Linked DNA regions of Homo sapiens. The protein of the gene in region 2 interacts with the protein of the main gene of each other region in a biochemical or structural test. Each region holds a gene or a part of one and is shown on either strand. Other genes may lie near its edges.

Evidence for each region.
Region 1: the proteins of PDGFRB (region 2) and NCK2 form a complex in vitro, tested with the Homo sapiens proteins (2 studies listed by BioGRID).
Region 3: of the proteins of PDGFRB (region 2) and PTPRJ, one has a biochemical effect on the other in vitro, tested with the Homo sapiens proteins (2 studies listed by IntAct).

The regions. Positions count from the first base shown.
Region 1 is NC_000002.12:105,747,763-105,751,511, forward strand, and holds part of NCK2 (cytoplasmic protein NCK2), read left to right. Parts: intron 1-3,749. UniProt on the Homo sapiens protein: Adapter protein which associates with tyrosine-phosphorylated growth factor receptors or their cellular substrates. Maintains low levels of EIF2S1 phosphorylation by promoting its dephosphorylation by PP1.
Region 2 is NC_000005.10:150,121,183-150,124,931, reverse strand, and holds part of PDGFRB (platelet-derived growth factor receptor beta isoform 1 precursor), read left to right. Parts: intron 1-100; coding exon 101-205; intron 206-571; coding exon 572-682; intron 683-1,730; coding exon 1,731-1,890; intron 1,891-2,891; coding exon 2,892-3,052; intron 3,053-3,609; coding exon 3,610-3,728; intron 3,729-3,749. UniProt on the Homo sapiens protein: Tyrosine-protein kinase that acts as a cell-surface receptor for homodimeric PDGFB and PDGFD and for heterodimers formed by PDGFA and PDGFB, and plays an essential role in the regulation of embryonic development, cell proliferation, survival, differentiation, chemotaxis and migration.
Region 3 is NC_000011.10:47,983,464-47,987,212, reverse strand, and holds part of PTPRJ (receptor-type tyrosine-protein phosphatase eta isoform 1 precursor), read right to left. Parts: intron 1-3,749. UniProt on the Homo sapiens protein: Tyrosine phosphatase which dephosphorylates or contributes to the dephosphorylation of CTNND1, FLT3, PDGFRB, MET, KDR, LYN, SRC, MAPK1, MAPK3, EGFR, TJP1, OCLN, PIK3R1 and PIK3R2. Plays a role in cell adhesion, migration, proliferation and differentiation.

The DNA.
Region 1 (3,749 bases), on a different chromosome or scaffold from region 2:
AATACTTCACGGCACGTTTTCAAAGGGCCTAAGCTAAAATGTGATTTCGTGTATCTTGTTCCATGCCTGAGTTAAGGCAACTCAGAAGAAGGTCGTGACGGCCTTTTAACGGGCTATCAAAAGTGTGCAGCTAAAGCAAAAACAGTTTTGCATTTCTTTAGGCCATTTAGTAGCACAATTAAAAAATTAGACTCTTTTCTTTTCCTGCATTTTCCTTTGAACATTTCCCAAAGTATGTTTATTTCTAAAGGTAAATGAACGTTAGCAAGTATTACCTCTGCCCAGTGACACACATCCACATGTGTACTGGCACATACATTCCTACCTCAAGAATCTTAGTCCTTGAAACTGTGGAAATGAAAGTTATTTTGATTGAGGTAGCAGTGTCACAGTGATGTCATACGGTGTCACTGTCCCTGACCAGCCTCTGTGTTCCCTCTCAACTCCTTGGCTCAGTCTCCTCCGTGTCCTGAGTTCTTACTCATCCCAAGGGTCGTCTCTTACTTCTTTTCTTCCCCACATCTTATCAACTCCAAACTAGAGGGGATGGCATCATCTTTAAACTTCCACAGCACTTTCTTTGTGTCCCTGATTTGTCATCTGTGACATTCTTTCCTGCAGTTGTTTTTTTTCTTTTTTTAAGGCAGGGTTTCACCCTGTCACCCAGGCTGGAGTACAGTAGCATGATCACAGCTCACTGCATCCTCGAGCTTCTGGGTTCAGGCAATCTTCCCACCTCAGGCAATCTTCCCACCTCAGCCTCCGAGTAGCTGGGACTACGGGTGTGCACCACCATGCTCAGTGAATTTTTTTATTTTTATTTTTATTTTTATTTTGTAGAGACAGGGTCTTGCTGCTTTGCCAAGGCTGGTCTCAAACTCCTGGGCTCAAGTGAGCCTCCTGCCTTGACCTCCAAAAGTACTGGGATTACAGGCCAGAGCCACCATACCCTGCCCTATGGTTTTTTTGCCTTCATCTTTTCTTTACTAGATTCTGAACCGCTTGGGGGCAGACTGGTCTTGCCACTTATACACAATGAGTGTGCAACAAATACTTATTGAATATGTGAATAATGAGTGCCCAGCCTGTTAATATTGGGGCTCTAGCCTCCCACTGAGATTCAAGTGGTAAGAGACCTCCAGCATTCTTGTAAATCTCAGAACTTCTGTCTACTGTGGAAGGCTTTGACCTCAGGATGTCCAGACAATGGGAGAATTTGGTCTGTTGGCCTCTCTATTTGGCAAATTTTCTGTCATGTGAGTCATTTGTAGTCCTGAAGCTACATTTAAAAACAACAACAGCAACAACAACAACAAAAAAACAAAGCCAACCCCATACTCAACTGTATTACCTGGTGGGCTGGCTGAATGGTTTACTTTTGTAGGTTAGTCTGTTCCTATCAACCTGAATTCAAAACGCTGGGCAGACCGTTTGTGATCCTGGCCTGGTAAGTTAGTTATTTGTGTCACCCCTTCTTTCTACTGTTGTATTGGTAATGTTTTTAAGAGAAGAAGCTTCAAGTGCACTCAGAATTTTAAGTATTGCAGTTGCTTCTTTTGAGACAATTTTGGAAGCTGGGGTGCTTACGTTGCCAAATTGTTAGTGAAGACCGAAAATGCCATGATGAGAGAATGACATGTACTAATGCATGCACGCTCATTCATTGTTTGCAAAGTCCTCTTCACATACACCATCATATTTAATAGTCGAATAACATGGTGCACTTGGTTCTGGCCCTCATTTCTAGGTAGGAGACTGGGGATGACAGAGCTTGAATTTAGGTTAAGTCCTTCTGCAGGCCATACATGAGGAACACCAACGTGTTGCTGGGTAGAGTTGTTTTTTTGTGAGGCAGTTTACAGAACACAGTGTCCTTGGGTATCTGCCTTTGCCGTGTCGCAGCTGTGTGTAGATATTGGTGGAGCAGATTCTGGATGTGAGTTGACTGAGGTTGAGCGGTGTGAGGGGAGGCCGGCAGGAGCAATGTCAGTCTCTCTTGTCCCCACATCCTGGTTATGGGCCAGGGTTACCCTGGAAAGCCTCCTCAAGTTCAGAAAGCTTATTCCTGTTTAGTGCGTGTATTAGTCAGCTCCAGCTGCCTTAAGAGAATAACACACAGAGGCCGGGCGCAGTGGCTCACGGCTGTAATCCCAGCTACTCGGGAGGCTGAGTCACGCGAATTGCTTGAACCCAGGAGGCGGAGGTTGCAGTGAGCCAAGATCACACCACTGCACTCCTGGGTGACAGCGTGAGACCCTGTCTCAAAAGCAAACAAACACACACACACACACACACACACACACACAAAACAACAACAACAGAATGGGTGGCTAAAGCTGCAGACATTTATTTTCTCACAGTTCTGGAGGCTGGAAGTCCATGACCCCGGGGCCGGCAGGGCTGGTTTCTGGTGAGTGTCTCTTCCTGGCTCGTCTTCTTGTGTCCTCACTCACGTAGCCTTCCTTCTGTGAGTGCACTGAGAGAGAGGTCTGGTGTTTCTTCCTCTTATAAGAACATCTGTCCTGTTGGATGAGGGCCCCACCCTTATGGTGACCTTTTTTAACCTTATTTATGACCTTTTTTAACCTTAATTGCCTCCTGAAGCGTCCTGTCTCCAAATATAGTCACTTAGGGGTTAGGGCTTTACCATATGAATTTAGGGTGGACAATTCAGCCACTCCCAGTGTGTCTGTCTAGGTTCCACAACAGGGCTGATGCTTTTAGGAAGACCTGGTGCTCCCATCATCCAGATCTGGGATCTCTGTTTATTTGGGGACACCTACCAGGGATGGTTAGAGTAGTCACAAGTAAGGAGGGAACGTCAGCTCTTTATATATTGGTTGTAGCACCCCATAACAGGGAACAAGCCTTGGTGCTGGCCTTCCAAAGGCTGGAAAGGTTTTAAGTAGAGTGATTGAAGAGAGAGAAAAATCTTGACTTGATTTCATTTATGGAAACTTCTCTTCAACTTAGGTAGGTAGACACTTATTTGGGGGTTGGTTTGTCTTTAATTGAGACCATGATAAAATATCAGTGATATGCAAAGGAAAGTTTTTTCTGAACCCTGGATGAAGAGAGCAAAGCAAGAGGTGGGGCCAATGGCAGCCAGGGTGGAGAGGCCGTCTCCTCTGAGCCTGCCATCTCTGTGATCGTGCAGTCTTTGCCACATGAGCAAACATCCCTTAGCAGAATGTGCATGACGGTGGTGAGGTGCACCCTGAGCGTGGCTGGAATGTTTCTGACCTAGGCCATTTTGCCTTGTTCAGACATAAGGCAGGGGCAATGCCTGCATGACTGACCTCCCTCTAGCTCCAGATCTGTATGTTCATTGATGCTTTGTTTGCTCATTCATTCACATTCATATGAATTATCCAAGTTCTTAGTGGTCATTTCCACCATCCCAAACCATTTGCAGCTTCTCCTGCAACCTGCCCGCCTTCTCAGTTATATTCCCCATCACCGACTCACTCGGTTATCCTTGAATTCTCCCTCAGCTCCCAACTAGTTATCAACCCCTATTGATTCTACCTCCAAAAGATCTAACATCTCAGCCCTGCTGTCCTTTTTCTGTTTCCCCTGGACATCAAAACCACTTTTTAACCATTCCTGCCAATCCATCCCAGGGTGACTGCACCCTGACAGTCAGGTCTGGCCATGACCTGCACACGGTGGCTCTCCATCGTACTTGGGTCAGTGACTCAAGTCCCCAGCATGGCAGTCATGGGCTTGCACGACTGGGCTGCCTCTCT
Region 2 (3,749 bases):
TGATAGCGGCCGGGGGTAGGGGAGTGGGGGGAGGGGGGCAGCTGGGGGAGCGGTGCAGCTTCCTGGTAGGCCAGGAGCTAATGGATCATCTCTGCACCAGGACGCACCCTCGGCTCTGGGGCCTTTGGGCAGGTGGTGGAGGCCACGGCTCATGGCCTGAGCCATTCTCAGGCCACGATGAAAGTGGCCGTCAAGATGCTTAAATGTGAGTAGTCCTTGGAGCCCTCCACATCTGGGCCTTCACCTCTCCCTGCCCCTCCCCACACACTTAGCCTCTCCCAGGGTGGCCTGATGCTGATTTGCAGGCACTAGAGGGGCCATCACACTGCAGCAGGCACTGCTCCCGAGTCTGGGTCTGGTTTGGGAAAGAGCGTTCCTCTCCCTGGCCTCCTCGGCCTGCTTCCCCCTACCCTGGCCTCTTCCCCTCCTCAGAGTGTGGGTGCTCACCCCCGCCAGGCTGCCTGGGTCTTGCAGCACAGGGCGGGGCAGAAGAGTCAGAATAGGCTCCTGTGGTGGGGCCTCCATGGAGCCTCCATGACTGGGCCTGGCCTGGGGCCCCCATTTTCCTCAGCCACAGCCCGCAGCAGTGAGAAGCAAGCCCTTATGTCGGAGCTGAAGATCATGAGTCACCTTGGGCCCCACCTGAACGTGGTCAACCTGTTGGGGGCCTGCACCAAAGGAGGTACCGAGCCCACTGCCCCAGAGGCCTCAGGGAAAGTGCCCACCACCAAGGCCAGGCCCCGCCTACCCCCCCCTCAGGCCTTGCACAACAGCACACTCCTGCTGGAGGGTCCGTGCCCACCCGCTCCAGCGCCCTCACTGCGCGGTCCCAGAGGGCGGTGGGGTTTAGAAACTCACAAAATCACAACACCTTCAAGGCTGAAGGATTAGTCAGGTCACCAGTCCCAGCAGCTTCCAGACCATGGTGTTGGCTGACACTTTTTTATTTTCCCAATACATTTTGAAAACCAATAAATAACAGCTCACATGACATTAAGATGAGTTATATGCCCACCATTGGAGACCACCAGCTTGCTACTTGGGAGCTACCTTCATTTGATCATAGAAGAAAGTCTCTGTGGCCAACTGGGTCTATTTGAAGCTCTGATTGCCAGTTAGGCTGAAAAAAAATGTTATCACCATTTGCAGCTGCTTATTGTGAGATTTGGGATTTTCCTCAGCATTATGCAACCAAAATAAAATACAGAAGTATGTTGGGTACATAGACTTATTCACGTTTGCAATGATCGCTCATTTCAACATTTTCGTTTGTGTAGATATCTTCAAGTTCTCACTGATTGACTTTAAGTAAATGCATTGTAGTTGAATTTAACTACTAAAGTGATCGTTGTAAACAGTGGCCTTTATCTGCTTTCTATACTGGGCTCCAAAGTAAGCTTTAGTTTGAAAACATATCAATAAGAGCCAACACTGCGAGCTCGCCACGTGCCCAGCCAATAAAGACATCATCTCATTAATCCTCATGACAGTGCTTTGTGGTGGGTTTAATTAGCCCCACTTAACAGCTGGGGAAGGTAAGGCTCAGGGAGACTAAGTACCTTGCTCTCCACCACAGAGGCAGGAAAAGAATCCAGATTTGCAAGGCACTAAAGCCTCCTAGCCGTCATGCCAAAGTGTCTCTCCCACATCCAGCCCCTGATTAGCCTCATGGCCTTGAAGGGACGCCTGAGGCCTCCATAGGGACTGTCCCTGAGCCTGTCCCTCTGCAGGACCCATCTATATCATCACTGAGTACTGCCGCTACGGAGACCTGGTGGACTACCTGCACCGCAACAAACACACCTTCCTGCAGCACCACTCCGACAAGCGCCGCCCGCCCAGCGCGGAGCTCTACAGCAATGCTCTGCCCGTTGGGCTCCCCCTGCCCAGGTACCAGGAGGGAGGCCAGGGACTGAATCTTTGGGATACCTGAGGAGCACCGCTCCTTCCCCTCCTTTTGTCCAGGAGGGGAAGCTGAGGCTGTGACAGGGCAGGGGACAGAATCACTCCTGGAGCTAGGGCTGTTCCACAAGATGGTCCACCCCAGATGAGGGAATAACACTAATGCCAGGCCCTGTGCTGCTAAGCCCTCTACAGATGTGACATGCCATCCCTGTGTCGTGGGTGTTTGCCCTTCAGTCCAGGGCAGGCAGTGATGGAGGAAGGGGCAGAGGCTGTGGTGAGATGAGAGCCAAGCCTCCCAATTTGCACAGTGGTGCTCCAGGCTGTGTTCCTCTCTGCAGCCTCTACACATCAGCCTCCACACTGCCTCTCAGGGAGCTCAACTCCAGTCTTTGTCTTTTCCAAAAAGAACACTTCTTAGTTCTGTTGCTGATTACAAAAACAAAGACAAGAGTAGCTTCAGAAAAGCGTAAAAGACCTTAAAACCCACTCATGTCCTCTCCAATGTTTTGACATTCAGTCTCCCAGGAGCCAAAGGGCTTCTCCCATCTTTTTCCTGCCTATAGAGACAGATGTGTGTAGAGCCCCACAGCTCTTTGGGGAGCTGATGCTACAGGCATAGGTAGCGGGGTGAATCCTGGCTGCCTATGCTGGGTTGCAGTCAGGCACTCCCATGGCCAGGTGGCGCTGGGGAGGCCACAGGAAGGCGCCTCTGAACACACCCGTCTTGTGACCTTTGCCCTGGGGTGCTGTAATCGCCTCTGGGTGTGAGCTCTCTGGGTTCTAACTGTCATTTTGGTAGCCTCAGTGCCCAGCTTGGCCCAGCAGGTTGGTTGAAAAGTCTTGATCCACAGGCTTTCCTACTGGGATAGACTGAAGGAAGATGAGTGAGTGTGTGAGTGAGAGAAGAAATTCATGAGTGGCAAGGGGCAGGAGGGGAGGGGAAGGCAAAGCCTGCAGGCTCTCCTGTGATGCTCCTTTACCCCCAGCCATGTGTCCTTGACCGGGGAGAGCGACGGTGGCTACATGGACATGAGCAAGGACGAGTCGGTGGACTATGTGCCCATGCTGGACATGAAAGGAGACGTCAAATATGCAGACATCGAGTCCTCCAACTACATGGCCCCTTACGATAACTACGTTCCCTCTGGTGGGTGGACATAGTGACATAGTACCCCACATCCAAACAGGCTGATGCTCTTCACATGCCCAGCCTTGCCAAAAACCCTGAGAAGAAGGGAGCCTCGTGCCCATTTCATAGATGTAGAAATTGAGGCTAGCCACCTGGCCAAAACTGATCTGTAGTGGACCCCTAAACGGAAGCCCTGTTTATGGATCCGGAAACATGCGTAGAACCCTCAGGGAGGGAGAGAGCAGGGATATGGGAGGACCTGGCCTTTTGTCGTGGTAGGGAAAGTGATCTACTCAGCTTCAGCCCCAGGCTGGTCTAGTGTCCCTGAGAGGCAGGCAGGCAGGCCAGGCTGGGCAAAAGTGGCCCAAGGGCTAATGCCAAAAGGCCAATGAGGGCACTGATAAAGCAGGAGAACTTTGAGTTTGATATTAAGAAATCATTCTCCTTTTAGGGGAGACCTAGACGATCAGTAGCCACCTGTCTTGGACATTCAGTCTCCCAGGAGCCAAAGGGCAGGGGTCCTGTGGGCCAGAAGGAGATATAAGATAGCAGGTGACCCTCTGCTTCTCCTCTAGCCCCTGAGAGGACCTGCCGAGCAACTTTGATCAACGAGTCTCCAGTGCTAAGCTACATGGACCTCGTGGGCTTCAGCTACCAGGTGGCCAATGGCATGGAGTTTCTGGCCTCCAAGAACGTACGTGTGGTGTTGGTGGGG
Region 3 (3,749 bases), on a different chromosome or scaffold from region 2:
TTTTGAGACAGGGTCTCACTCTGTTGCCTGGGTTGGAGTGCAGTGGCGCTATCAAGGTTCACCGCAGCTTCAACCTCCCAGGGCTCAAGCCATCCTCCCAACTCAGCCTCTCAAGTAGGTGGGACCACAGGTCCACACCACCATGCCCAGCTAATTTTTTGTATAGACAAGGTCTCACTTTGTCATCCAGGCTGGTCTCAAACTCCTGGGCTCACCTGATCCTCCCACCTCTGCCTTCCAAAGTGCTGAGATTAAAGGAATGAGTCACCCTGCCCAGCCAATAATTCTTAACATTAGGGGAAAAAAAAGTATTGTGACTGAGCTCAGTTCATCTTGCACACACCCAGAGTTATTCCATACTACTCTGTGGAAAACACTTCATAAATATTTGTCATATGGGCCAGGCGTGGTGGCTCAGACTGTAATCCCAGCACTTTGGGAGGCCAAGGCAGGTGGATCACCTGAGGTCAGGAGTTAAAGACCAGCCTGGCCAATGTGGTGAAACCCCGTCTCAACTAAAATACAAAAACTAGCCAGACATGACGGAGCGTGCCTGTAGTCCCAGCTACTCAGGAGACTAAGGCAGTAGAATTGCTTGAACCCGGGAGGCGGAGGTTGCAGTAAGTGGAGATCACGCCACTGCACTCCAGCCTAAGCAACAGAGTGAGACTCCGTCTTAAAAAAAGAAAAAATTGTCATATGAACTAATGATCTGGGGCCTCATTTCTTCTCTCCAAGTAACAGCAGCAGCCACAACTAGCAGTTGGGCCTTGCTTTAGGTGTTACGTAGCAATTCCTTTTCTATCTTATTTGATCCTCTCAACCACCCAGTGAAGCAGGAAGTGTTAGTCCCATTTTCCAGATAAGGAAATGAGAAGTCACAGAGGTTAAGTGACTTGCTGAGTTTATGCAGTGGCAGAGCAAAGACCCAAACCCAGGTCTTTCCATCCCAGACCCCAGTCTATCTCCACAAAGGCAGACTTGCCTTGTAAACTGAGGCCCCAAAGAAATATAAGCAGGAAAGAGGGCACCTGGGTTCTCTGTGTTACAAATGGAGCAGATCATACAGGGTTTAGGACACAAAGAACCCAAAATAAAGGTAGCATGTCCCTGCAGTCCTGGCTACTTGGAAGGATGAAGAGGGATGTCAACTGGACCCAGGAGTTCGAGTCCAGCCTGGGCAACACAGCAAGACTGTCTAAAAAATGTCTGGGCCAGGTGCGGTGGCTCAGGCCTGTAATCCCAGCACTTTGGGAGGCCGAGGTGGGCGGATCACCTGAGGTTGGGAGTTCAAGACCAGCCTGGTCAACATGGCGAAACCTCATCTCTACTAAAAATACAAAAATTAGCTGCGCATGGTAGCGCACGTCTGTAATCCCAGCTACTCAGCAGGCTGAGGCAGGAGAATCGCTTGAACCCGGGAGATGGAGGTTGCAGTGAGCCGAGATCGTGCCACAGCACTCCAGCCCAGGCAACAGAGTGAGACTTCGTCTCAATAAATAAATAAATAAATAAATAAATAAATAAATAAATAAATAAATGTCTGCCACCTCCTCTCTTAGCTGCACACAGAAAACCTTCTCCATGACTTTTTACAGCACAGGATGGTAAATTGGGGCAGTGGAGACATCAGCCCTGGCTCCGCCACGTAGTAGTTAATGAATCTATAGTAAATTATTTTTCTTTTTTTTTATTTCTCTGTGAAGATTCCAGAAGTATACAGTTAAGTTCTGAACCTCAGTTTTCTCTCAGATAAAATAAAAACATGGCTGGGTGCAGTGGTTCATGCCTGTAATCCCAACACTTTGGGGAGCCAAGGTGGGCAGATCACTTGAGCCCAGAGGTTCAAGACCAGACTGGGCAACATAGCGAGACACCATCTCTATTAAAAAAAAAAATTAGCCAGGAATGGTAGCACACGCCTTTAGTCCCAGATACTTGAGAGGCTAAAACGAGAGGAGCCCTTGAGCCCAGGAGGTTGAGATTGCAGTGAATTACGTTTGTACCACTGCACTCCAGCCTGGGTGACAAAGCAAGACCCTGTCTCTTAAAAACAAAAACAGGCCGGGCACGGTGGCTCACGCCTGTAATCCCAACACTTTGGGAGGCCGAGGTGGGCAGATCATGAGGTCAGGAGATCAAGACCATCCTGGCCAACATGCTGAAACCCTGTCTCTAATAAAAATCCAAAAATTAACTGGGCATGGCGGCACGTGCCTGTAATCCCAGGTACTTGGGAGGCTGAGGCAGGAGAATCCCTGGAACCCAGGAGGCGGAGGTTGCAGTGAACCAAGATCACACCACCGTACTCCAGCCTGGCAACAGAGCTAGACTTCATCTCAAAAAAAAAAAAAGGCCGGGCACAGTGGCTCACGCCTATAATCCCTGCACTTTGTGAGGCCAAGGCAGGCAGATCACCTACGGTCAGGAGTTCAAGACCAGCCTGGCCAACATGGTGAAACCCCATCTCTACTAAAAATACAAAAAGTAGCCAGGTATGGCGGCATACGCCTGTAATCCCAGCTACTCGGGAGGCTGAGGTAAGAGAATCACTTGAACCCAGGAGGTGGAGGTTGCGGTGAGCCAAGATTGCACCATTGCACTCCAGCCTGGGTGACAGAGTGGGACTCCCTATCAAAAAAAAAAACAAACAAATAAACAAGAACAGCACCTACCTCTTGGTATTTCTGAAATGGCCAAATGAAATAATGCATTAAAACCCTTAGCACACAGTGCCTGTCATGCATAATGTTACCTATTAATTATAATATCATCAGTGGCATTATATTAGAAGGGAAACACACAGAAAATTGCCTCTTATCCTGCACTCAAAATAATTCCCTAGCCCAAGAAGTGAATGAACTGAGAAGTAATTACTGATGATCCTCTGGCTACACCCAGGCCTACGGTTGTTCAGCCACTCTGCCTCAGCCCCAACCTCAAGCAAAAATTACTTTTAGGAGCTAAATAACCCCTTTGCTGACCAAAATTGCTCATTTGGAAGCCAGGATCCTCTCTGCTTAGGAAAGCTTGGGTATTCCATGGTTATCTTTATCGTGGGGCCCAACTTGAAGTCAGCTCAAAGTCACGGTCTAACCATAAACCAATTTGCTGTTTTCGTAAACTGTCTGCAAACAAAACATAATCGTTTGGTTTTCCCGTTGTCCTGAAGCAAAACAAAAATATTTAAAGTCACTCATATGAGAATCTAACAAGCAGTTTAAAGAGGAGTCAAAATATACTTTGTACTCTGGATGGAACAGGTAAGGAATCAGGCTTAAGGATTAGCCATGAGAGATAATAAACCCAGTTATTATTCACCAGGAAACAAGAAAGTGAAGATAAAACAAAACCAAAACACTACAAGACCAATAAAACAGCTATCAGTCACCAGCTTTTTTTTTTCATTTATTCTTTTAAAATCAGCCCACATCAAGCTGATTTCTTAAAGAACCTGTCAGGATTAAATTTCTCAAGGAGGCAGGAGGAAAACTGCTTTGTCACATTGCCTAAAACATACACACAAACCAAAACTACTGTGCAAAACTGCTATGAGAATGGGAGGAGTCAGACACTGCAACTAGCAAAGTCCTCATGTTGGAATCATCTCTGACCGTCCTTCCTGTCTTAGAAAAGGGGAATGAGATGCCAGTTCAAAAATTGCTTTTCCGGGCCTACTAAGCACTGAGCCTTCCGGCATCTCAGCTTTCCAGCTTCCACACCCGCCCTTATTAATGTCCAAACAGAGC